5 separate regions of the Homo sapiens genome follow, and regions 2, 3, 4 and 5 are each linked to region 1. The links come from fine-mapping of genetic effects on gene expression. A gene starts in region 1. Each other region holds a variant in brackets. All regions are shown on one strand. Distances are between the middles of the regions.

Region 1 (5,101 bases):
GTGTGAAACTGCATATCAACTGGGTTCTTTGGACAGCAGCTGAACTGGGGGACATGCACGTGCATGCACACACACTGCTATGCTGTCCTCCTCCAAGACCAGACTTTTACAGTCAACTCATCACTCTACTCTCAAGTTTGAAAATTTAACATGTTATTAGGGTTTCAGAAAAAGCCATAAATTCAAATAAAAAACCCAAGAAGTACACACAAAGCCCAAACCCCAAACCCACATTGACCCTCAGCTGCAGCAGTGATGCCAACATCACGGCCTTTATGTATATAAATTTAGCTGGGGAAGGAAGAGGCCTTCATGTACAAAGGTCCAACATGCCATCTGCCAAGCCCACCACCTTCGCCTTTCAAGCTGCTTATTAGAACGCTAAATTACACATCCGACAGGCTGTCTGGATGAGTTTTCTCTTCTCTATGATGTGGGAGAGACGAAGCTGGGGAGAACATCTCTTACAGGGAAGGGGCCCCCTTCGTTCTGTCCTCCCTACCCCGTTCCTATACTTAACGATTGGCTCTAATTTAATTAGAACCCTCTGGTGGTTCTGTAATGGGAGGCAGAGGCTGTCAAGAAATCACCTTCACTATTCACTACAAGCTGAAATTTGGAGAGCGCGCAGATCCGGGGGTGTCCTCCAGAGAAAGCCCGTCTCTCCTGCTCCCTGTCTCCCCCTGAGAACCTGCTCCAGCGCAGCCTCCCCTTCTCTGCCCCAAAAGTGGGGGTGGACCCGGTGGGAAACAGGCAGGGGACAGATGGAGGGGCGAGAGGGCGGGTGTCCCAACACGCACAGATGAGCAAATACCCAGATTGAAACGTAAGCTGAATGTAATTACTTGGTTAATTAAATATTGACTTTTAACTCAAAAAGTGATTAAAACAAGCTGCAGGAAGACTTTCCAGAAAGGGGGGCAGGGAATGAATCAAAGCTTTCAAGGGGGAGGAGGAGGAGGAGAGGGTCGTCACAGGCAGGTCTGGCTTGCTCTTCCTACTGTGTGCTGGGCCTACTGCGTGCAGGTGGGGGAGTTGCGGACCGAGGCCAGTGTGCAAACTAGGATTGCAGGCTTCCCTTTCCATCTTCCACCCCGAGACGGCATCTCTCTACCCTGCTGCCCTCCCAGTGAACCGGCAGCTTCTGGCGCGCAGGAGCCAGATCCTGTTCAGCCGCGTTTCCCTGGAACAGAACGCGGTGCCCGGCACGAGGGGGTGCTCCAGAAATGCTTGTAGAACGAATGAACGAACTACTATAAGGAATGTTTGGAAAAGTGCACTCCTAGAATTCACCGCTAGACTTCTGAAACCCCGAGGAGCCGGGGAGGGGAGCATCCCTCCGCCAGGCGATGGAAACTCGTTCTGCCCTGGCCTGGGAGGAAGTCTGCCTTTTCGATCCTGTTTGTCCTTTCGGTGTCTGCGAGTTTCCAACCACTCTGAAGATCCGGCCCACTGCTTCCCCGAGTCCTGCCCGGACAAGCCCCACGTGGGCTGGCATCTACCGGTCCCTTGGGTCTAAACCCTAAGGGTCAACAAGGCCATGCCCCTGCGGATGGCCGGCCCAGGCGCGCTCCCCTACCCGGGGCCGCCTGTGCTCGGTGTGCCGTGTCCGCGGGTCAGGGGCGCGGCGGGAAGTCCTCGCCCGCCCGCCAGCCAGCGGGGTCAAACAGGTCATCCCTCTGCGGACGGCCGGCGCCGGAGCCTCCCTCCCGCCCGCCCGGACCCACCTCCGCAAGCAGCGCTGGGGCTGGAGCCGGGCGGTCCGGACCAGCCCCGGCTCACCTGGGCGGCGCTCGCGGCCGGGCTCACGCCGGGGAAGGCTCCGGCCGCCGCGAGCCCCCGCCCGAGCCCCGCGTCCCCCAGCCACCCACCTGCCCCCCACGCCCCACTCACCAGCGCGCACGGCCCCGGCAACCTCACCCGGAGCGGGGCGCCGCCGCCGCCTCTGCCGCAGCCCGGCCGGGCCGCTGGGCGCAGGGGACTCCGCGCCGCCGCTGCCGCTGCCGCCGCCGCCGCCGCCGCTGCCGCTGCTGCATCCCCCGGCGAGCGCTGCTGCTCCTCCTCCTGCCTCCTCCCCGCCCCCCAACGCCGCCGCCACCGCCCCCGGCCCCCTCCCCGCGCGCCGCCCCAGCCAAAGTCCGGCTCCGCACCCCGCCCGGACCGCTCTTAAATCGCCCCAGCCCGGCCGGCCACGCTGCCCCAGCCAGCCCCTTGGCACGGCGCTACCGCCCCCCGCTCGCCTGCCCGCCGGCCTCCACGCAGGGGAGGCGGGCGCGCTCCGGGGCGGGGAGCGTCGGGCCGGGAGCCGCGGACGGCTGGGGCCCGGGGCGCGGGGGGCCCAGCCGCGGTGCCCTCCTCGAGCCCTCCGCGCGCTAGCGCTTTTACCTCCGGCCTGGGGGACGCGCGGCCCGCGACCCGGCCCTGCCTGTCCCCGGCGCACGGCCCCGGCCCCGGCCCCGAAGTCCAGCTCCGGACGGGGCAGTGAACGCAGAGCTGGGGTCCCGGCGGCTCTCGACCTCCCGATGCCTCCGGACTCGGCTGGCCGCGCTCCCGGCGCCGAGCGCGCACCCTCGCCGGGACACACAGACGCACACTCACTCGACACACTCTCGCTCCTGCTCGCCCTCGGCGGAGAGTTGAAACAGATGTGGGATTCGCCCAGGAGCTGGAAACGAGGGAGGGAAGCGAGCCAGAGCCTTGTGTGCACGTGTGTGTGCGTAACACACAAACCAGGGGGCATCGCTAATAAATCAAATATCGTGATAAATTCAGGAGGGCCATCGATCAGGTCCACTTGGCTGGAAACGACGTGAATCTGCCTCTTTTCCGCTTTCTTCTTCTCCTCTCTCGGAGCTGGAGGGAGCCAAATGTTCCGCGGGGAGTGCGACAGCCCCGGCCGGGCGCTCCCCTCGTAATGACACGTTAATAAATGTTTTCTTTTATCTGCTTTCACAGGACTCGCCCCGGTCTGCAAACACTCGACTGCCTTTGCCGAAAGCCTCGCGCTCGCCTCCAGCCACACACATTTGCCATTGGAGAGGCCGGCGCCGGCCGCGACCCGCAGCTCAATCGCAGGGCAAACCGAGCTGCCTGTGCGCGCCCGAGAACTCCCCGAGAAATTAACTTCGGCTCAAGTGAAAATAGCAGCTGTTGTCCAGAAATGGCCCGGGAGTAGCATAGAAAGGAGAAACCGGCTTCCTCCGAAAGGGGAGGAATTGGACTCAAGGGGGTGCTGTCTACCGTGGTTTCCGCTGTCCCTCGCGCCACAGAAGAGGCCGGAGGGGGACCGGCCTGACGCGGGTGGGCAAAGAGCGGGCAGAGAACTCACCAGCAGCTGCAGAAAACACAGCCGAGTTGCTAGCTAAGGGGAAACAGACGCCGCTGTGGGAAAGCACTTGTAAACAGCAGTAACTTATTAAATCTTGTGACAATCTCACACAGTAAGTTACTATGCCCGTTTTACCATGGAAACCAAGAGAGGTTTAGTAACTGTCCGAAGATCACACAGTTATAAGTGGTGGATCCTGTGAAGCCAAGAAGCCTTAGCTCCCGGCTCATGCTCTTAAATCCTAGGATGTTTTTACTTTTCAACCTAGCATCTCCTTTCTCTGATATGATCCTCCATGGTAGAGTTGTCAGACTTAACAAATAAATATAGACATCCACGGGGAGGAAGTTAGTACTAAAAAATCATTCATTTTTAAATCTGAAATTCAAATCGGATCTCCTGACTGGGTTTGGAGCTCTAGGCTCCTCCCCATAACCTCTGTTAGCCACGCCAATCAAGTTAGAGCCTAAATAAATCAGAAAAACCTTGCACTTGCTTTTCCAAGTCAGGTGCTGGCCCTACCTTTGGCATCACTGATAAGGCTGAACAGCTCCCACCTTCTTTGCCCTGGGACAGAATGTCAGGCTTCACCATCATAGACCGAAAAATAATGGAGACCCCTCTCCTTCCGCCTCATCTCTGCAGAAGGACATATATATCATTTAGAATTTTCTAGTAGTGGCATTAGAAAGTAAAAAGAAACAGGTGAGGGCCGGGCACAGTGGCTCACGCCTGTAATCCCAGCAGTATGGAAGGCCGAGGTGGGCGGATCACTTGAGTTCAGGAGTTCCAGACCAGCATGGGCAACATGGTGAAACTCCATCTTTACAAGAAATACAAAAATTAGGCTGGGCATAGTGGCATGTGCCTGTGGTCCCAGCTACTCGGGAGGCTCATGTGGGAGGATCACTTTGAGCCTGGGAGGTGAAGGCTGCAGTGAGCCATGATTGTTCCACTGTACTCCAGCCTGGGTGACAGTCAGACCCTGTCTGAAAAAAGCAGGTGAAATTAATTTTAATATTAATAATATAGTTTACTTAACCTAGTATATCCAAAATCGATCTCTTCAACATGTAATCAATATAAAATTAATGAGATATTTTTACATTATTTTTTCTTACTAAGTTTTGTAATCTGGTGTACATTCTAAACTTACAGCACATCTCAATTGGGACCAGCCACATGTGGCTCAGGGGTCCCATGCTGGACAGTGCAACTCTGGCAGGTTCTGCGGTCAATGGCTGTTTCCACCGGGTCATTTCATGTAATCCTCCTGACAATCTTTCAAGCAAACTGATGCTCAGAGAGATAAAGGGTCTTGCCTATAGTCAAAAACTTGGCCAGTGGGATTTCAACCCTTTTGATGCTGTCCCTGGTTTGGGGACATGTACCCCACTGCAGAAGCAATTTTCTTACTGAATCCTCAGGGCCCCTTGGTGGTGCTTCTGGGGCCTGGGGTGGTGGAGGGAGGCCCAGGAATGGGATCTGCCTCCCTCCTACTTTTTATGTTGGGTTCTGGAGAATATTTCAGGGGTGGGGAAATTTCCACGGCAAAAAAAGTCTAAAAAAAACCCCACTGCATTACCACACTGTGCCCTTAGGTCCTCGAGTTCCTGAACATGGCTCTCCCATACCCATAAGGATCCTGCCCACAATGTTTCACTCCATCCTTCTCTGCTCGTCAGGTAACCCCAGTCAGAGAGGGGATGCTTACAATCCCTTCTTCTGGGGCTGTGGGCCTGGCGGACACGTGGCATTTGCTTATCTTTTTGG
Region 2 (5,101 bases), 50 kb before region 1:
ACTCATTAGTTGCAACTAGAGCCCAATATTTGTTAAATATCATTAGATGCAACCTAACAGAGGGCCGGGTGCGTTGGCTCATGCATGTAATCCCAGCACTTTGGAAGGCCAAGGCAGGTGGATCACTTGAGGCCAGGAGTTTGAGACCAGCTTGGCCAACATGGCAAAACCCCATCTCTACAAAAAATACAAAAATTAGTCAGGCGTAGTGGCAGGCGTCTGTAATCTCAGCTATTCAGGAGGCTGAGACAGGAGAATCGCTTGAACCCAGGAGGCAGAGGTTGTAGTGAGCTGAGACTGTGCCACTGCACTCCAGTCTGGGTGACAGAGCAAGACTCTGTCTCAGAAAAAGAAAAAAAGAGATGTAACATAACAGAGTTATTCTCGAAACATTGTAGTTTCATTTCAAGATCAAATACCTTACTAAATACATTAAAAGCACTATTTATTATGAAATGTTGGTCCACTTAAGTAGCATTTTTCTGGGGTCAGTCTTCCTCAGTTTGGGCTGATCTCCTCTATTCAAACGAGTATCACAAACACAAATGGCTAATAACTGTTAGGGTGGCCTAGACTTCACTTGTCCTTCAGTATCCGTTTTCTTCTTCTCCCACAGTAAAATAACTTTCATCTGGGCAAATGTCCACCTAGAATAAGACTACATTTCCCAGGCCCCTTTGCTGCCATGCATGGCCATATGACTTGTTTCTCACCAATGGGAAATAAGGAGAAATGGAGTCGGAGTCTCTGACCACTTCATAGAGCAGGGCCACCAGAACAACTTGGAATTTTATTTGACATCCCCGGTCTCTCTCACACACACAGCCAAACTTAAATCCAACTGAACCAACTTTGCTAGGTGGCCACGTGAACACAGGGTTTAACATGGCTGAAGACTCAGCAGGAACAATTTACTTTTGGTCCTTGGGGGATTAAAAATTTACAGTATATTCTAATATGTATGTACAAATCAATCTAAAAGGAAAAAATAATCTAAAAGGTTTTGAATTCATTATAGATTTTTGTCATTTTTCTTAGTCAACACTGATCAGTATAACATATCACGCAGTTGGATCTTTAAAAACATTTCCACTTTAAACAACAACTCAATATAAAACTCAAACCTGAGCTTCCTAGCTGCCAGGGCAAAGAGGGAAACTATACAGGGTATGTGGCTCTTATTATGTAATAACAAGGAGTACACCAGTTCATCAGACTAAACAGGTGTTTTCAGGGTCCTGAGTTCTGAAAGTAAGGCTGGAATGGGATTCTTTGTACAGAGTGGCATTCTAAATATAATGAATAAAATTCTCAGTGGCAGTTTTACAAAAACGTAAATGTTCTCGGTATCTGGCTCTTTACACTTGACATTACGCTCCCAGTCTTCATGAGGGTATAATAATGAATCATAGTTGAATAAAAGCACTTATTTAGGGAGACAGCTTTTTGGTGATTTGCATACATTCAAGGACAAGTTTGGGAAATCCACTTTAGAGAATGTTTATTCTTGAAATGATTGATTTTCTCATGTCGCCTGTAAGATTTTGAAACACTAGCCTTTAGCTCCCACCCTGAGCCCTCAAAATGGCACAGAATATATGAGTTTCCTTTCAGTCTGATGAATACTATTTCCATGCCCCCTCTGAATTCCCATGATCTTGCATTCCATTTTGATTATGCCACAAACACCTCACTTTGACTCTGGGCAGGTCTCTTTTTTGGGCTGCAGTGGCCCTGGCTGTGAAATGAGGGGGATTGATGAGAACAGGTCTAGGGTCTTTACTGATCTTCCAGCATCCAAAACGAAAGGTTTCTGTACAGACCTTTCACCCAGAGGTTGTGAAAAGAGAGTCTGTGAGCCACACACTCACTCCTCAGACATATTTTCTTTGGCCCCCAGTATACATTAAAGAAAAAATAAGCTGTGCCGGCATATTTTAAAATAAGATTTTCAGTGAAATATTCAGACTTTAAAACATTTCAAGGCTGGTCACTCTTGAGTGCATGGCTGTACTTTCTAGAGCCAAGTTGCAGGTGCATCTTCAATAAGGGCCCACTGCTGTGCTGCGGGCCTGCCTGTCCTGCTTCTGCTAGCAACATCCAGGCCCCCGCCAATCATCTAGGGTGGTGGCCATGGTAACTTCTGACACATGTGGCTTTCTGCAGAGGCTCAGGGGAACCAACAGGTGGTTGATTCTGCATAATGGCACGCACAATACACAGGAACAAGGTATAGGAACGAGGCCTTCCTAGTTCTCAGCAGAACATACTTTCTAGGTGATTCTGGCTATGGGATGAGGCTGTAAGAAGACACACCTTACTGGCTTGCTCCCCACACCAAAGCATCCCTGCCAGCCCACACTGTGTATCTGAGAGGAAGCTGCCCAGCCTCGAGGGCTGCAGGTCCAGCACTGCGGACAGGGCTGGAGGAGGAGTCCATCCTTCCCTTGCGGCACTC[C/G]CACCCAAACAAACCCCTTGTCACTTGGATGCAACTTCCTGGGGTTGCAACATCTGAGCCACAATATCTTGATTTCACAACCGCCGCGGCTTCTTACCCAAGGCGGGGAGTATTTATTTATTTTTAATTAAAGCAAGTTAAATGAATTGAGTCTGGAGGGTTTTGCAATGGCGCTACAGGTAAGTGACTATACTGTAATTGCATCTCTACCTCAGACAACCAGCCTGGCAGGTGAGCCTTCAGAGCCCACCAAAGACCTCCTGAAGGATAAGCAAACAGGAACTGGGTCGCCCTCCACCCAGGATGACACGGGTGAGTGTGGACAGTCAACCACCATGTCAGTTTCTGCACCACCTTGGTTACTGCCACGTAGAAAGCGACCACACAGCCCCATTATCTGTTCCCCTCCATGAATTCCCATCCCCCACCCCTATGTTTTGGAACCTTCTTCCAAGCTAATGGTTTGAAGTCAACGAAACAGTCCCTGATGGGCTTAATAACTATTAACAGAGGATGCAAACTCATGCATGGGCACCTTATGGCCTCTCCACACTATGATTCATAGTTTGAAAAGACTCACTTTTTTGGGGGACTCAAATTCCTTTGACAAGGTCACTTTACATCACTACTGTAGGCAAATAAATCTGTATTTCTTTAATACACACAGAAATAAATGCACAACTCTGAAATTATAAGAGAGTTGCTCTAGGGGCTATCCAGAATCAACTTGGGTACCGCAGTGGTGTGCAGACCACACCTAGGGACGCCCGCCCTGGCTGTCACTCCCTTCCTGCACCTGCCCCCGTCCCTGCTCACCTGTCCGGTAGCCAGTGCTATTGAGGTACACGGCAAAGGTGCGGCTCTCGTGCTGTGCCTGCCAGGAGGGCGAGGAGCAGTTCTCATTGTTGGTGTAGGTGTTGTGGTTGTGGACGTACTTGCCAGTGAGGATGGAGGAGCGTGAGGGGCAGCACATGGGTGTGGTCACGAAGGCGTTGATGAAGTGCGCCCCGCCCTGCTCCATGATGCGCCGGGTCTTGTTCATCACCTGCATGGAACCTGCAAGTCAAGGGTGGAAGTAAGGCGCAGGGCAGGAGACCCGGGCGGCACCGGCACCAGGGGGCTCTCAGCACGTGGCATCCCTAGGTCTGGAGTGGGCACATTCTGCAGACCTACGGGGCAGACGGGGCAGGGGCCACTGCTGCACGGTGGGACTGTCCTGCATAATCAGGAAGGACCCTGGGTCCCGAGTCCACCTGGACACTCCTGAGGTCCAGGTCTGGAGTCTGGAGGATTTTGCAATGGTGCTGGAGGTGAGTGACTGTAAGTGACTGTACTGTCACTGTCCGGTACTGTAATTGCATCTCTACCTGCAAGGCAGGTAAAAACCTGTTTATAAATGACCTGAGACTGGAATCAAACTGTTTTACAAATTTTAAACACAACATTGTTTTTGCAGGGTATTAATATACATTGTTTTGTTTTTTCTTTTGGAAACCAACCACCATGTAAATTGAGGGAAGATTATACTTTCTTTTCTTTGGAACTTTCCCAATAATTGTTTGCTCTTACTGAAATCTGGTCATGCCAACCTGGTGGCAAACCTTCTCCCTGAGTATTCCCTGGCTGAGGTGCTCTGCCATCAGCCACAAACCCTGCTGGCCTCTTGTCCACACTTTTCTTCGAGCCTGGAACCCACCACCCCTCACCCCAAATCCAACCCATCGGCCTAGTACCCTCTCGTAGGGAGCCTCTGGCACCACCCTGGGCTTGAGAGCTCTGAGCAGTCTTGCAGCATGTGTCCTGAGTACTGATCATACCCCAGGCTTCGAGGTTTCGGTCATGCCTGCTCTTGTTTCTTTCTTTTCTTTGTTTTTTTTTTTTTTTTTTTTTTTTTGAGACAGAGTCTTGCTCTGTTGCCCAGGCTGGAGTGCAGTGGTGTGATCTTGACTCACTGCAATCTCTGCTTCCCGGGTTCAAGCGATTCCCCTGCCTCAGCCTCCCAAGTAGCCCCTATACGCAGCTAGTTTCTGTATTTTTAGTAGAGATGACGTTTCGCCATGTTGGCCAGGCTGGTCTGGAATTTCTGACCTCAAGTGATCCGCCTGCCTCTGCCTCCCAAAGTGCTGTCATTACAGTCATGAACCACCTTGCCTGGCCATGCCTGCTCTTGTTTCTCAACCAAGCTGTAAGCAGAGCAAGACACTTAGGAAGAAAGGCAAGAAGGAAGGAAGGAAGCAAATGAACGTGTGTGGGAGCCCTACTGCGTGCAGGCCAAGGTCCCAGGAGGGCAAAGGCTGTGTGCTCCGCTCAGCGCTGAATCCTCAGCACTGCTGCCGTGTGTGACACACAGTGGGTACTCAACATAGGTGTGACGAGTGCATGCTCAATTGTATGCTGTGGTTGGTACCCAGACCCTTAGTGATTTGATGGAAATATTCCATGGAAACCCTCTCTCCTTCTTCTATGGCCATCCTTGGTTTTTCCCCTTTTCCTTGCAGTTCTTAAGGTGTGCAGTGGGTTGAACGGTGCCCCCGTCCCCTAAAGATAAGACCATGTCCTAATTTCTGGAAGCTGTGAATGTGACCATATTTGGAAAGAGGGTGATATGGTTTGGCTGTGTCCCCACCCAAATCTCATCTTGAA
Region 3 (5,101 bases), 120 kb after region 1:
TCAGTGATCCGCCTGTGTTTACAGGCATGAACCACTGCACCTGGCCCATAAAGCTTTATTCTATTTTAATGAAGCAAAAATGCATAAGTGTGTAAGTGTGATCATATGTGTGTGTATGTCTAACAGGAGCACTACATAGCAAAATGCGAATGCTGCTTATCTTTGGTGTTGGTATCACGTGTGATTTAAAATCTTTTCTTCTATTTTTAAAAACTTTCAAAATGAGTCATGACTTTGATTATTAGAAAAGAAATCTATAACAATTGAGAGGAAAGAAAACCCCACCTGTTGTTGAAACTGGCTGGAGCTGGGAGAAATGAGAGATTCCTTTGCAGGTGTCACCTCCCTACCAGAAAATTGGCCTTGCAGGAATGTCCCACAAGCCAGATGTGTCTCTTTCCCCCAGTCCCTGTGCCTGGTGTGAGGTCGTACAGACAGTGAGCATCCTTCACAGAGTCTGACCTGCCAAGGTAGGGGGGAAGTGGGGGTTTAGTGACATTCAAAACCCGGGGGAGCCGAACAGGTGTGACTGTATGTTTGCAGGGTGACCTCTCCCCTCAAAGAGCAAGAAATAACTCTAGTGCAATTTCCAAACATTTACAAGAGAGGATTTTTAAACTTTTCACTTCTTTATTGCAACTAGCACATTTGGAAGGATAAAATACAGAAAGAAGTCCTGCTATTTACAATCAACTTTCACTAAGCCAGTGTTATATTCAAAAACAGCAGATAAAGCTCATGGCTTTGATGAAAGGGGCAGTCTTTTCATTGGAAACAATTAATACTGCTCCCCGTTCTGGGGAGAATTTAAAGAAAATAATTTGGAAGGGGATATGGCTTGATACAATCAAATGATTTCAGATCACAAATGTAATCATTTGATCTTGCTTTAAAACCAAACATTTCAGAACAATCTAGCATCACATTCTCTTCTGAGTCTGTGAAACTCTGAATTCTGGGTGAGTCTGAATTCCCAAGGCAGGACTGAGGATAGAAAAGATTTGATGGCAGAAACCTGGTACTGTGGTTATCACGTGGGTTAAAGATGTAGGCTTGGTTAACCCACTGAACCTGCTTATGTATGAGGCTCACCTGAGAAGGTGATATGGACAAGCCCATCTTATGGGTCTGAGGGCTCTTCACCAGGAGTGGAGCAAGGAGGATGGCCCCAGCGTCCCCGTCTCTGAACACGTTTAGCGGGAGGGCTGTAGAGCCTGGACAGATCACCACTGGCTCCATGGGGAACTTTCAGCAGCACTCATTGCCTGTGTCTATTCTGTGCCAGGCACTGCGCTCAGGGCAGGGATTTGGGATTCACCAGGGCACAAGGCGACGTGCGTCTGTCCTCACGGAGCCTAAGTGCTGGTGGAGACGGACAGTGCAGATGCCAACCGCAAATGACGAGGCACTTGCAGGTAGGGGTCAGCGCCAAGAAGGAAATGAAGGGTGCGTGTCGCTGACTGAGACTCTGGTGGGAGCTACTTAAATAGGGCCATGGGGGAGGGCCTCTCTGAGGAGGTGACATTTGAGCTGAGGCCTCACCAATCAGAAGGAAAAAGCTGTAAAGGGTCTGGGATTAACTCAACCTGGGGACTTTTAAAATAATGTAAGGTGTTACAGCTCTTTTAGAATTTGTCTAGCACGTTTTCCGGTTGTCACTCCCAGGTGGGCTCGGGAAGAGGCATCTGTGCCAGCTCGTGGCCTGTTCTTTGCACTTGTGGGGAAGGGGTCCCCTTTTCCCACAGCCGTCCCCCCGGGGCCTGCTCCCAGGTGGGGTCTGGTTTTCACCAGAAAGCCCTCCATGCAAAAACAAAAAACAAAAAACAAAAAAAACCCACCACACAATTGAATTTGAATTAGTTGCCAGCATTTACATTTTAATTCTAAAAATCTGTATTTTCGACTTCGTTGGAAAGTCAGACTATCTGGCCAGGCTGGGCTGGGATCTGGTGGAGTTCAGTATTTTGGTTTCTGGTTAGGGAGGGTATTTGGGGTTTGCCCCTCCAGCATCTGTTCCAGTGTGAAGTGGGGGTGGAGGCCCAGGCTCAGTGGGGGGATCTGCAGTGGCCAAGGGTCTTGGCTGTCTCCAGATGGCCGGATGGACGCTGCCCCCTCCTGCTTGGGGTGTGCTGGGGTTCTTTGCTGCCCCTCCTCCCAGCCCACAGCCTCTTGAACTCCACGGAGACCACCCCCATGTGAGGCTGGGAAGGGAAACCTGCCTTTGTAAGTGGAATCAGGTGAAATCGGGCTGTGACTGTGTCAGTCAGAAACTAAAAGGCCCTGTCACACCCGTGGCCAGGAAGACTGTCACCATGGTGGCATGGAAATGACAGAGACGTGTGGGACAGCGTCTGCCAAGAGACGAGCCAGGTGAGGGCAGGTCGTCATGAAGGAGGGAGGTGGGGTCCTCCCCACAGAGCAGCGCCATCCC[A/G]CAGAGAAACAGCCTCTGGGGAGGGACGCGTTCCAAGGAGGCCCCGTGCAGTGCAGAGTGGGTGGCTCGAGGCCTGAATGCCGGGCACTCGGAGCGGTCAGTGTCCCCGTGGGAGCAGGGCTGCTCGCAGCCAGGTGATTGGCGACCTTGGATGGTCAGCCCCTGTGTGCGTGTGAGGGGGTGGCCCTCTCCTCTGTCTCTTCTGAAGGCAGCAGTAAAGGAGGGAGGCCAAAGAGCTCAGTGTCAGACGAGCCTGGGTGCAGGTCCCACTGCCTGCCAGGCCAGTGCCTCTGAGCCTCAGTTTCCTCATCTGTATAGTGGGGTTAATCCCAACCATGTATACTGTCTGCCTGCCATGTGCCAAGCCCTTCTAACACATCTTTGATTGCCTGAGGGCAGGGACTTTATTATCCACCTTTAGAGTTGAGAAAGAAGAGGCACAGAAAGGTTAAACCACTTACCGGGGGTCACACAGCTGCTATGGCAGAGTAAAGACTCCAGACTCAAATGGAGCACTAAGCCCCGCCCTGGGCGCCAACAGGTGCTCCAGGAATGTCAGGTGCCATTTATCACCCTCATCACCTACTGGGAGCGCTCGTCCCATCATGCAAACCCCGTGAGCGTGAAGTGAGGGGACACGTGCAGGATCGAGTGTACTGGCGGGTAATGAAAGTAAAGTAATAACCACAGGATGATATTCACAACCCACAGTAGTGCTATCAACAGCCGCATCTGCCTGCTTCTCTGGGCCCAGGATTGCCTGCAAACTCCCAGGAACTGGTCCTAGGTGGGTCAGAAGAAGGGTCTGACGTTATGGGAAGGAGCAGCTTGCCCAGCTCATGGCCTGTACTGTGCATTGGGAGTCCCTGCCCCCAACAGCTGTCCTCCAGGGCCTGCTCCCAGGTGGGCTCAAGAGGCCACAGAGCTAAGCAGCTTTAGGCCAGGGTTCTGCGGGTTACTGTGTGCCTGTGGGAGTGACACCCCCACCCCCAACCTTCCTGCCCTGCCAGCTGCTGGACACACAGCAGCTACAGGGCATGAACCCTGAGACCAGGACCTCTGTGGGTCCCATGGCACAGAGCCCCCTCCTCCCTGCCCGACTGAGAAGGAGGAGGCGCGCCTCAGGGTGAATCCTGCCCCCCCTCCCCCGCTCACTGCAGGATAAACGGCCTCTAGATCGAACACCTCACAACAGGATGTGTCTTAGCGTGGTTTATCAAATCACAGGCTGTGATGCATTAGTGGGTCTTGAAATCAATTTAGAGTGTCAAGCCCGGCATTGAAAATCTGCAATAGAACCAGAATAGACTAGGTCAGGAGGCATCAGAGCGCGTTGTGTGCAGCGAGGGTGAGTGTCGTTTGGGTAAACGTGCTGCGTATCTGTATAAATGGATGTGCTTGTGTGTGGTGGGTGGCAGTTTGCAATGTGTTTTTAGGTGGGTTGCACTAAAAACGTTAGAGAATCTCTGTCTCACCGCCTTACGGTAACACAAAGGGGAATCACCTAGTAGTGATCATTTTCCTCAGAACCTTACATTTCCCTGATTTGAGACCGTTTATAAGACTGAGAAACAGGTCTAAGCTGGTGCCAAGAGTTTTGGTTACGTCAGGGATAAGGCTGTGGCTCTCTCATCCCACAGTCCATGCTGAGGGCTGGAGGGGAATTGAACTGCAGGATGAAGTGATGAACATGCAAGAAATGAGACCGGGAATGGGAGAGGCTTGCAAGGCAAACAGAGATGGGGAGAGGAAGGGACGTGGGTAGGGGTGGGTGACTGTGAGGGAGAGAAAGGGGGTGAGGGGTTATTTATGAAGCTCTAGGAGCTGCCTTCCTAGAGTCCGTGCCACCTGGACTCAAACACTCATTGTCCATTCAATGACCCCTTGGAGCTTAAGAGCTCTGTTAGGATCTGAAATGTGTCCAGCAGATCTTCGGAGCCATTGAATTTTCATCCCATGTGGGATCTGGACACATATGCATGCAAACTAACATCCTTACACATATGCACACACAGATACACATGCCCCCACATACTCATGCATCCACGTGCTCACACACAGATACACTCACACATATACATTCATGCACATGCATGCATACAATGCCCACACATATATGCACACTGATACACACTCACAGACACACTCATATGCACACACACACATAGACACACTTATATGTACGCTCACACACATGCTCACTCCTACATGCACTCTCCCACACCCACACATGCCCACGCACTCACAGACACAGTGAGTCAGGTGTATTTAATACGCAGTTCGTGCCTATGCCTCCCCCAGATCCCCATGTGACCTGCTCGTTAGAGGAGGCCCGGAGTCCTTGGGGGAGCCCTGGTGTCCCGCCACCTGATCTCCATGACAACCCATCCCGACACCGGTTTGTGAGTGTGAAAGCTTCAGGGCCCACAGGACCTCCCACGTTAATTCATGGAGATCAGCTGTTCACTACTCAATGCTCCCAAGTTATGTGAGGCAGCGAGGCACAAAATTGGCATCTGCTGTGGTGTGTGTGTGTGTGTGTGTGTGTGTGTGTGTGTGTGTGTGTATGTGGTGAGCTTGGTGCACAGGTAGGATGAGGTTTGGGGCAAAAGGGCATGAACGATACAGCCAATAGTAATTGGGTTACAGTTGTTGATTGCTTTCAAAGGA
Region 4 (5,101 bases), 22 kb before region 1:
TGATTTCTGCTGAATCTGCAGAGCCCTTCAGTGATTATTTGCTTAACGTGCTTCTTTAAATGGCCTCATTTTAAAATAAAAACACAAACACATGTTTTGGGAAAAGAAAACTTCCTACCCAAAGATAAATGGAAAGTGGACATCGCTTCCCTGTAGAGCTAATTGTACAAATAAAAGTCAAAGAAAGCTGAATCAGTGGAACTTGATGCAAATAGCTTCCCAGGCTTCGCGTGCCCTCGCGCTCGCACTCTCTTTTGAAGTGAGATTAGCAGGTGTTGAAAGGAGTCAAAGCACATTAGCACCATCTGAGACTTTCTGCTGGAGGTAACTGGAGGCTGCCAGACAGCTGAAAAGGAGACAAACTCTAGCCATCGAATCAGTCCCTGAACCACCCCAAATCAGAGTAATCCTCAAACTATGTTGTGTATCTGATATGGTTTGGCTGTGTCCTCACCCAAATCTCATCTTGACTTGTAGCGCCCATAATTCCCACGTGTTGTGGGAGGGACCTGGTGGGAGATAATTGAATCATGGGGGTGGTTCCCCCATACTGTTCTCATGGTAGTGAATAAGTCTCATGAGATCTGACGGTTTTATAAAGGGTTTCCCCTTTTGCTTGGTTCTCATCTTCTTTTGTCTGCCATCACATAAGACGTGCCTTTCACCTTCCACCATGATTGTAAGGCCTCCCCAGCCACATGGAACAATGAGTCCATTAAATCTTTTTCTTTTAAATTACCCAGTCTCGGGTATGTCTTTATCAGCAGCGTGAAAACAGACTAATACATTATCAGTGGCCCATGTCCCTCCATCGGGAAACACTACGGGATGCTTTGCACTTGAAACTACGATTGCAGCAGCCAGCGTTCTAAGATGCACATTCACGTTCCTTCAGAGAGACAGACGTGGAGTGCTAATATTGGGAGAATTCCGATGGGGTGCCCTACAAATAGCAACTCTCTGAAACCAGAAACCAATCACAGGAAAACCTTTCTGAAAGCTTGCAGCACACTCCAGTCTCTGCTCTGAGCTGTTTGCAGGTGTCAACCCAATTAATATGCACACCCACCCATCAATATTTCACCCATTTTATGGATGAAGAAGCTGAGGCACAGAGAGTTAAAATCACTTTCCCCCGATCATATGGGTAAGTGGCAGAGAAGGGGTTCAAACCTAGTCTGGCCCGATTTGGGCAGCTCAACCAGGACCCCCTAGAAGCAGATCTTTGAACAAGTTCCTAAGAGTCTCCCAGCCTCAGTTTCCTCATTTGCCAGGTGGCCAGGTGCCCTCTGAGGGCCTTTTTGGCCCTGGGCCTGTGATGCCAGGGTACAGGGGGGCTGGGAAGGGCAGTCTTCATTGGGAGCCCTGGGCTGGGTAAAGATGGAGCCCGGGGCACAGTCAGCTGGACTTCGTTCCTGGCTCCCATGTTGGTTTCAGAGCACCCCCCACTCCTGGGCGGCTATCACCCGCTCTCCTCTGGATGGAAGTCAAAGCTCCGGCACCAGAAGCCAGAGAATAACAGGAGCTAATTATTTCATCAGATCAAGTCATCAGTGGGTCGATTTCTGATGAATTCCCCTGGCTCAGACTTCTCGTGGCCTCATGCCAGTTTCTCTCCGGATGCTGAAGAAATCAATTAAAGATGACACAAGGGATTCTGCCTTGTTTTTTTTCCTTTTTCTTGGTAAAATATTCAAAGTGGCTGAACCGAGAGAGCACCCAGTGAACTCACGCAGCACCAGCCGCCTGCCACTCCATCCCTGCTGTGGACAACACCTCTCCTTCCCACCAGTTCCTTTCCAGGTCTCTCTGGCTCCTCCTCTCCATCCTGAGTCTTCTCCAGGACCTTGGCAAAGGCTCGCCAGCCCAGGAGACATCTCTGGAAACAGCTAACGTCCTGAGCATTTAGAAACATCATTTTTAGTTCTCAATTTCTCTGCCGATCTGCCAAGAGGAACGGGTC[T/TCA]GAGTGACTGATGCCCTCACCTTCCCAATGCCACAAACCACAGCGGTGAACAAACACCTGGGACCTCATCCAGACCTGTTTAGAAAGACCCAGATGGGCTGTTTTCCTCTGAGGATCTCCAAATCCAACAAGAGGAGGAGAGAGAAGTTTGGGAACAATCAGGCAGCTGAGGTGGTGGGAGAGGAAGAAGGGGCCAGAGGCAGAAGGAGGCACTGGTCAGATGGTAAATGTCCATGAAAGGCGGGAAGAAAGCAAACTGTGGGTGTGCAGATACGTCCCACGGGCTGGGGCCAGAGCCCCGCAACAGACCTAGCGGCCTCCCCAGGTGGTCCAGAGAACCTGATCATTTCTCTCTCTTCCTTCTTTCACTTTACAAATACGTATGAAGGACCTCCTATGAGGCACAGTGTTCAGTGATAGGAGAATCCTGCCTGGATTCCAACAGCCTCCTAACTGGTTTCCCTGCTTCTACCTCGTCCCTTCCATCAAGCAGCCAGACAGATCCTGTTAAAACAAAAGCAAGGGCCTGCCTTCCTCCACTGAACGGCCTTCAATAACTTCCATCCCACGCAGAGTAAAACGCAAAAACCCTCCAAAGGGGCTACAAGAACCCACCCAACCTGCTCCATCACCTCTCCGACCTTATTGCCTTCCCCTCTCTCCCTTGCACACCTGGTTCCAGCCACACGGTCTCTGTACTGTTCCTTGCACATGCTAGCACAGCCCACCCCAGGGCCCTTGAACTTGCTGCTCCCTCTGCCTGGAGCCTTCATTCAGGTTATCTTCACCATCCCTTCTTCCCCCTCCTCAGGTCTTTGCTCAAATTTCACCTTGGCAGGTTAAAACCGAAATCTCTGCCCTCCCCAGTAGCACTTACCACCTCTCACAGCTAGCTCCTTTATTTCTTTGCGGATGTCCTCCAGCAGAATATCAGCCCCCTGAAGGTACAGGTTTTTGTCATTTTTGTTCAGATCTATATCCTCAACAATTAAAACAATGCTTGCGGCATAGCAGGCATTCAAAATATTTACTGGCTTAACAAAGAATTATCTCCTGTCTCCTGGTAACAGCCCCTGTTAGTGCTTTGAGGCCACAAGTGCTCTTATTTCCCACCCCCCCTTATATATGGTTTGACTGCAGGGCAGCGCATGTGAGCCAGGTGGAGCCAATCAGCAATTCCAGCTCTAGCTTCAGCGATTGGTCCTGGGGCAGACATGTGACCCAAGTCTGGCCAATAAGCGAGAGGGAGTCCTGGAGGCTGGAGGAGACTGTGCTGGGTGCCAGGAGGCATGAATATGGTGCTGATGGTGGCCGCCCATTGGATGGAGCCCGAGAGAGAGGATGCTGGTGACAATGGGGTGGACCAAGTTGCATCTTGTAGCCAGGTACAGACTCAAAAAAGTGCCCTTTGCTGCTTAAGAGAGTCCGAATTAGGGCTGTCATTTGCAACAGGGAGCACCCAGACCAACACAGGAAACACCCTAGAAGAACAATAATGAATGATAGCTAACATCAGGGGCCCTGCACAATTCTAAGCACTTTTAGTGTGTGACCTCACGCCACCCTTACAACCACCTTGTGAGTTGGGATGCTCCATTTACAGACAAGGAAGATAAGGCACGGACAGGTTCCAGAACCTGCCCAGTGTCGTGCAGCATGGGTGCTGAATACTGTCCCTTTGGTCCTCCCTTCCCATCTTCTCTCCACCTCCAAATCCAACAAGAGGAGGAGAGAGGGCTGGGCGCGGCAGCTCACGTCTGTAATCCCAGCACTTTGGGAGGCCAAGGCGGGCGGATCACGAGGTCAGGAGATCGAGACCATCCTGGGTAACACGGTGAAACCCCGTCTCTACTAAAAAAAATACAAAAAAATTAGCTGGGCGTGGTGGCGGGCGCCTGTAGTCCCAGCTACTTGGGAGGCTGAGGCAGGAGAATAGCGTGAACTCAGAGGTGGAGCCTGCAGTGAGCCGAGATCGAGCCACTGTACTCCAGCCTGGGTGACAGAGCGACACTGCCTTAAAAAAAAACAAAACAAAACAAAAAAAAAAAAACAGGAGAGAGAAGTTTGGTAATAATTAGGCAGTTGAGGTGGTGGGAGAGGAAGAAGGGGCCAGAGGCAGAAGGCGGCATTGGTCAGACGGGAAACACTCATGAGAGGAGGGAAGAAAGGAAATTGTGGGTGTGCAGATATGTCCCACGGGCTGGGGCCAGAGCCCAGCAACAGACCTGAGGGCCTCCTCAGGTGGTCCAGGGAGCCTGATCATTTCTCTCTTCCTTCATTTACTTTACAAATATTTATTAAGGGCCTGCTATATGTGAGGCAGTGTTCAGTGATAGGAGAATCCTGCCCGATTACAACAGTAATCCACTCTTCCCTGTCCCCTGGGAGGTTCACTTGGATGTGCCACCTCCAAGTGACAGACAAAACAAGCAAGCCAGCATGGCTATTTGCACACAGACATTCTGACCCCAGAGCCTACTCTTTTGACACTTATGCTGACTTGGAAAGCAACAAGTGATACAAGGGACTGAGGTTAAGTGTGTTGTATAAACAGCAAGAGGAAAGGGGAAACTGCTGGCCTGGGAGCAGTCAGGGAGGGCTTCCTGGAGGAGTACTTAGCATAAACTGAGCAGCCTAACAGGAGCAAAGTTCTGAAGAATCCAAAGGATTTGGATGGCCAGTGAAGAGGAGGGTGGAGGACAGGATGCTTCAGGCAGGAGAAACAGTTTGGGCAAAGAGCAGGCAGAGGAAACAGAGAGAGGCCCCTGGAGGGATGGGAAAGTGTGGTCCCAAACCTCACAAGCCCAGAAGCTGTCTAGACAGGGGATGACACACGCACATCTGTTAAACTTTACACTCCCCTGTGTCTCCCTTTCTTCCTGGCTACAGGCTTTCTCCAGCCTTCTCTCCTCCTCTTTGGGGCCGTCAAAGAAAGGACAGAAGCTCCTGTAACCTATGGGCCACAGCTTCTCCCTGTCTCCCCTACCTAGCCCAGGCCATCTTGTGGCTCTCCTTGCCTGTTCTTGGAATTCCAAATGGAGGCAGAGAACCAAGCCGGCTCTCAAGAACAGGGCAGGAGACAATAGAAGGGTCATTCAGAGGGAGGAGGGAAAGATCAGGTTTCAAGACAAAGGCTCA
Region 5 (5,101 bases), 120 kb before region 1:
TACAAGCAAGAGGCCTCCTGCTGTGGACTGCTCTTCTTAGGACAACACTGGCTCCACACAAGTCAGCGAGGATGGGGTCATCTTTAGTCAACATGGTTTCAGGTGTAAGTTCTCAGGAAGTGTTTGTTGAATGCATGAGTGGACAAAAGGGAGGACAATGAAATGAGACGGAATTCCGTGTGTTTCCTGGGCAGTTGGTGCAGGTGTTCCTCTCTCAGGAATCACAGCTTGTTAAAGGTCATCTGCCTGCTATGGACAGGGGCTCCCATGACTCGTCTGGAACTGTATCACCTCCCAAAGCCTGGTGATTTCAGGCTCATTCTTGGGGTAGACACCACCTCCTGAGTCCCTTCCTTTGGTTACCCTGCTGTCCAAGGGCCCCACGTTGGGGTGCCTACTCACCCAGGTCCATGTTTCGAGTCCGGGGGTTACACTGCTTGTAACCCTTGCAGCTCCTCAGCTCCATGAGCTGTACGTGTAGCTGGTTGAGGACATCCCTGTCCAGTGTGTTCACTGCATTCATCAGCTGGTTGCAAAAAAGGTAGTCTGTCAACAAGGTAAGTACAGGGACTCTCGCCCTGCCCTTCTACCAACCAGGGGACATATTTCAGGCAGGTGGCGGGTGGAAGGTGCTAGGGGCTGGTGACCTGTTTACTCCAACTTCTGCAAGAGCCAGCGTTTGGAAGAGTTAGGTGACTTTTTGGCTTCAAGTCCCACCAGGTTCACTCTTCATGAGAGTGAAAACTCAGGAGAATAAAAACCACGTCTGTGTATTTAACGTTGGAGTTCTGCAGCCACTGGTCAGGAAACTTCCCAAGCTTGGAAAGAAAGCCTTCCAAGTCTTGGTTTTATCAGCAGCCTTCATTCAGGGGCCCTCAGCTCCTCCTGATTGCAAAGCAGCCATTTGATGAAAGGACGGGTAAGTGGCCTGGGTTCTTGTGTAGTCTGGGAGCTACCGGTGAGGGACTTAACCTACCCCTTTGGTAAAGTATGAGGGTGAACCTATCTAAGGAGAAAGACTGCACACCTATATAGTAATTAAAGCATTTGTGCTGCTGACATTTAAACATCAGATTTCATTTAAATTATTTCAGGCTTTTCTTGAAAGGTCAAAGCCTGGGCAATACCAAGGCCACAGTACAGGAAAGCTCTAGTGCTGGAGCTCAGTAGTGACTGTCCCTGTACAAGGGCCCACATGTTCCGATGACCAGACATGCCACTGCTCCTTTTGGTCTTGTGTGGTCCTGGGCCACTTCAGTCGCATGTGTGTTTAGATGGCTTACTGTACGGAAGCACTTAGCAGAGTGCTTGGTGCAGTGTGTTACTGTTATATTAGCTGCGCGGTCCGTGTAGGCCCTGCAGTGGGTGATATTTGGCTTGATCCTACAGCCTGACAGTGTTAGGAGTCTTCACAAGTTCCGGCAAAACCTGGTTGCATGCTGCATGTTAAGTTAGAGGGAAGAAGCCATATATATTACACACGCAGGGTGATGGAGGCAAAAAGCAGGGTGATGGAGGCAAAAAAGGCTGATTGAACACAGAACCCCCAATCTCAGCAGCTTCACAACTTACTCCCACCGGCTCAGGGACTCAGTGGGACTTGGACAATTTGTCATCACTTCCCTGAGGTTGGGGGGGGCCTACCTGGCAGCACTGGTGTACCCCACACCCCCATCCCTCTAGCTCGGGTTGCCTGTACCTGGTAGGGGTCTGTGTTGAGATCAAAGTACTCTAGGAAGCCAGTTGCAAATTCACAGAAGAGGAAATTGTGAGTCTCATTGATGGTCCTCATGCACCAGTACGTGTTATTGTTGGCGCTGGTGCAGGCACAGAAAGGCCCCACTGCCAAGGAAGAGAGAGCATGTCCTGAGTGCCTGCGGGAGGAGGCCCCATCTGCCAACAGTGATTCCTGTCAGGGACAGCCCCTAAAACCAGTTCGTCAAATGCCAAGAGGCTGTCCCGAGCACCGTGGACCCCTGGTGTTGGGGACCCCCTTTCTGAGAGAGGTCTGGGTCACTAAGTGGAGAAGTTTCT[T/G]GAACCCCTGGGCCTCAGCCTGTCCACCCCTGCCCTGGGCTTGCTCACGTGTCCAGAAAGGCGCCGTCTGCCAGTGCTGGTTGTCGTGGGTGAAGCACGTGAGGCCTGGCATGCTGCACGTGTCGTTGTTCTGCAGGCGCTTGAGCAGCTTGCGGAGTTTCTTCTTGCGCTTCTGCTCCCGCAACAGCCACACCTTGTCCTTCTCTTGCAGGCCCTTCCTATGGGCGCAGAGGGCCACACACACCTTGGGCCTCTGAGGGATCAGTGACCCCATGTCTCTGCTCTTCCTGTCCACCTAAGGGCTTCGCTGAGGCTTCTCCAACAGAGAGCCATGGGCATAGCAATTCAGGGTCCCAAGTCCCAGTGCTGCTCCAAGGCAGAGCCGGGACCAGAACCTGGGTCTTGTCATTCTACTTTAACTCCCAAGGGGGCACAAGCTGGGGACAGAACCAGGCAGCTACTGGGACTCCTGTTGACACCCCTTTCCCCTCCTTCCTGTGTCCTGCCCTGCTTGGTGGAGTTGCGGTAACCCCATTTAGCCACAAGGGGGCGTCGGAGGCCCGCTCAGTGTTGATTGGGAAGTAAGGCCTCTTCGAGGGCTACCGTGGACTTCCCAGGGAAGGGCCTGGACTTCTTTCCTTTTCTTCTGAGTTTTAGCTTAAGGGAGGGCCACCTCCTCATGCAGGCCTCTGCATCTCTTCCCCAGGACCTCAAGCTGCTCTTACCTGAAAGGATGCAGACTGGAGCCTCTGTGCTTGAGGCGGCCTTTGTGCTGGGTGTGGTAGCTGTAACAGACCCCCCCAGCCCCAGGCTTCAGGAGTGGCTCAGAGGGCTCCGCTGGCAGGTGCAAGCTGTGATTTCTGGGACTCCCATGTGTTGCTGCTGCCCCACCCCTGTCCCTCCTTCTGGGGTGGTGGTGGGTAGGGCATGACCCTATCCTCAGGGCAGCAGGTGCCTGCCTGAGTGGCTTCTTTCTCCAAGCATGAGCCAGGACTCTGCCTGGACTTTTGCTAGACTTTAGCAGGTTGGGTTAATTGTAATTTAGCCACGACTAGAAGCTGGGCCTGGCTTTAGGTGCATCAGCCTCAGCATCCTTTTTCCTTTCTTTTTTGATGGTTAATTTTACATGTCAAAGCCTCAGCATCTTGAGGTTGGTTCCCTCACCACCCTGCCTACTCACACTTGGTCGGGGTCAACACAGGGAAGCCTGTGTTTTGCAACACTTTCTGGAAAGACAGCAGGGCTTCTACAGCTGTGCTGTCCAGTATGGTAGCCACTGGCCACAGGTGGCTACTTCAATTTGAATTAAGCAAAATAAAAAATTTGGCTCCTTAGTGACACTAGCCAAAATTTTAAGTATGCACCAGCCACGTGTGGTGTAGTGCAGATATAGCCCATTTCCGTCAGCACAGAATGTTCTATTAGAGCTGTTCTAGAGTTCAGTCCTTTGGGCCAGGGGACCCCTAAGCCGGGAACATGGACCTCAAACCACATGGGGGATTTCTGAAAGGGCAATCGGCAGAGGCACTTTTCCGGCCTGGAGCCGGCTCTGCGCAGCCAGCACGGGTCTCTTGCTAGCAGTACTGGAATCTGGGCGCCAGCCTGGCTGAGGAGCAGGTCCGTGTGCCACACTGGCTGACAACAGGGAGGTAAATTACGGATTTTTTTAATGCCATGAGGGGAGAAGATAAAGATAAAAATAAAAAATGAAAGGGGTCAATCACGAGAGGGGATGAACTGAACTGTCCTGTAGGAGAGTGGGGTCTTAGGGAGGTCCCTTTGCTACTGCCTCACCTGATTTTGTGACAGTCACATTCTTCTGGCCGCTTTTTCTTCAGGTGACCTCGGACTTCCCTCAGGTTCTTAATTTTGTTCTGCAGGGTTTCAATCTGAGGGAGGGGCAGAAGAGGAGGCCTTGAAACCTTCAAGGCTGGACAACAAAGACTTGGCCTGGTGACTGCCCCCACGCTGCCGTGTCTGTGCTCAGCAGCGGCAGCCTGCACTCCCCGGGCCCCAGGGCAAGCACCGGCATGTCTGGGTGGGGAGGAGGTACTTGTTCTGCCTGAAGGAAGCCCGCCTTCTCCTCCAGCCAGCCCTTGCAAGGGAACCGAGTCATTTTTCCGGCCTGGCCTGCGCAGGAACCCGCTGAGCCCACTGAGGCCTCCAGTGTCTCCCCTGGGTTTGATGAAAGGCCTCCTGTAGCGTAGACTTCTTGTAAGTCAAAAGGGGGACAACGTGGCTAAGCCATCGTCCCTCAGACGGCCTGGGCAGGAAGCTATCTGTCTCATGCTGGGACTGACACCTATCCCCGCGTTGAGGAATCTGTGGGGACCTCACTTCACCTCTCCAGCCTCTTCCCTGGGTCTGGCCTCACTGCCCTCCCACTGTGAACCGGGGGTCCTGCCAGGCCCGTGGTGGCCGAGAGCATGCTCCTCTCCCGCTCTCCACTCACCTCGTGGTCGATGTGCAGCTTGTGGTCTTTCCAGGCCTGCAGGGACTTGTACAGGTCCAGGTCACACTGGACTGTGTCGTTCTCTAGGATGTAGCACCTGCTTGAGAGAAGGGATCACGTGTGGCTCGGAGGTGGTGGAGGGGGAGCAGCCCAGGTGCCCAAGAGGTGTGGGAAGCCCTTGCCGAGGTCTGTCCTGTCCCCTTCACCCTCGACTTCCACCTGGACACTCACCGATGTGTCACTTTAATGGGGTTGGCGGCTGAATAGTCGGGAAGGCCTCCAGTGCCACTGAAGTCCCCACCATCCTTGTCATCTTGGTCCTCAGGGGCCCAAGAGGTGTGGGAAGCCCTTTGCCGAGGTCTGTCCTGTCCCCTTCACCCTCGACTTCCACCTGGACACTCACCGATGTGTCACTTTAATGGGGTTGGCGGCTGAGTAGTCGGGAAGGCCTCCAGTGCCACTGAAGTCCCCACCATCCTTGTCATCTTGGTCCTCAGGGGCCCCTGGCCAGTGCCGCTTGGTGAGGTTTCGGGGCTGGGCGGCATCACCCAGGCCTACGTGGTACACCCTGCCGTCCACCTCGATGGCCACTGAGCGGATGGAGCGACTGCGGAC

Alleles and levels. Positions count from the first base shown, and alleles are read on the strand shown. Sizes are in standard deviations (SD) of each study's normalised expression. Not every link is listed here.
In carriers of allele A in region 3, the expression in unexposed skin of the gene that starts at base 2,032 in region 1 tends to be lower than with G alone (moderate effect, 0.41 SD a copy in GTEx).

Evidence for each region.
Region 2: its variant is fine-mapped to the expression of SULF2 in whole blood (TOPMed, PIP above 0.99).
Region 3: its variant is fine-mapped to the expression of SULF2 in unexposed skin (GTEx, PIP above 0.99). The same link has a PIP of 0.9 or more in skin.
Region 4: its variant is fine-mapped to the expression of SULF2 in whole blood (INTERVAL, PIP above 0.99).
Region 5: its variant is fine-mapped to the expression of SULF2 in whole blood (Lepik 2017, PIP 0.93).

Annotation. Positions count from the first base shown.
Region 1 is chr20:47,783,450-47,788,550 of GRCh38, forward strand. SULF2 (sulfatase 2) reads right to left here and starts at 2,032. Exons shown (of 21, transcript NM_001387048.1): 1 at 1,894-2,032. LOC124904920 (a long non-coding RNA gene) reads left to right here and starts at 2,305. Exons shown (of 2, transcript XR_007067618.1): 1 at 2,305-2,713; 2 at 2,956-3,436. LOC124904921 (a long non-coding RNA gene) reads right to left here. Exons shown (of 3, transcript XR_007067619.1): 3 at 3,891-3,967. RefSeq lists an enhancer at 3,150-3,319.
Region 2 is chr20:47,733,429-47,738,529 of GRCh38, forward strand. SULF2 (sulfatase 2) reads right to left here. Exons shown (of 21, transcript NM_001387048.1): 3 at 3,275-3,514. Among named protein-coding and RNA genes, the nearest start is that of SULF2, 50 kb to the right of the region's middle. The variant C/G (reference allele first, on the strand shown) is at 2,459.
Region 3 is chr20:47,902,739-47,907,839 of GRCh38, forward strand. It overlaps the pseudogene RNU7-92P. Among named protein-coding and RNA genes, the nearest start is that of LINC01523, 78 kb to the right of the region's middle. The variant A/G (reference allele first, on the strand shown) is at 2,432.
Region 4 is chr20:47,761,372-47,766,472 of GRCh38, forward strand. The region is part of intron 1 of SULF2 (sulfatase 2); the gene reads right to left. Among named protein-coding and RNA genes, the nearest start is that of SULF2, 22 kb to the right of the region's middle. RefSeq lists enhancers at 30-568, 4,289-5,061 and a silencer at 4,934-5,101. The variant T/TCA (reference allele first, on the strand shown) is at 1,964.
Region 5 is chr20:47,661,371-47,666,471 of GRCh38, forward strand. SULF2 (sulfatase 2) reads right to left here. Exons shown (of 21, transcript NM_001387048.1): 12 at 4,890-5,101; 13 at 4,487-4,583; 14 at 3,829-3,923; 15 at 2,760-2,819; 16 at 2,083-2,252; 17 at 1,700-1,842; 18 at 403-526. Among named protein-coding and RNA genes, the nearest start is that of SULF2, 120 kb to the right of the region's middle. RefSeq lists enhancers at 1,836-1,885, 2,696-2,835, 2,866-2,915, 3,449-4,434, 4,435-5,101. The variant T/G (reference allele first, on the strand shown) is at 2,035.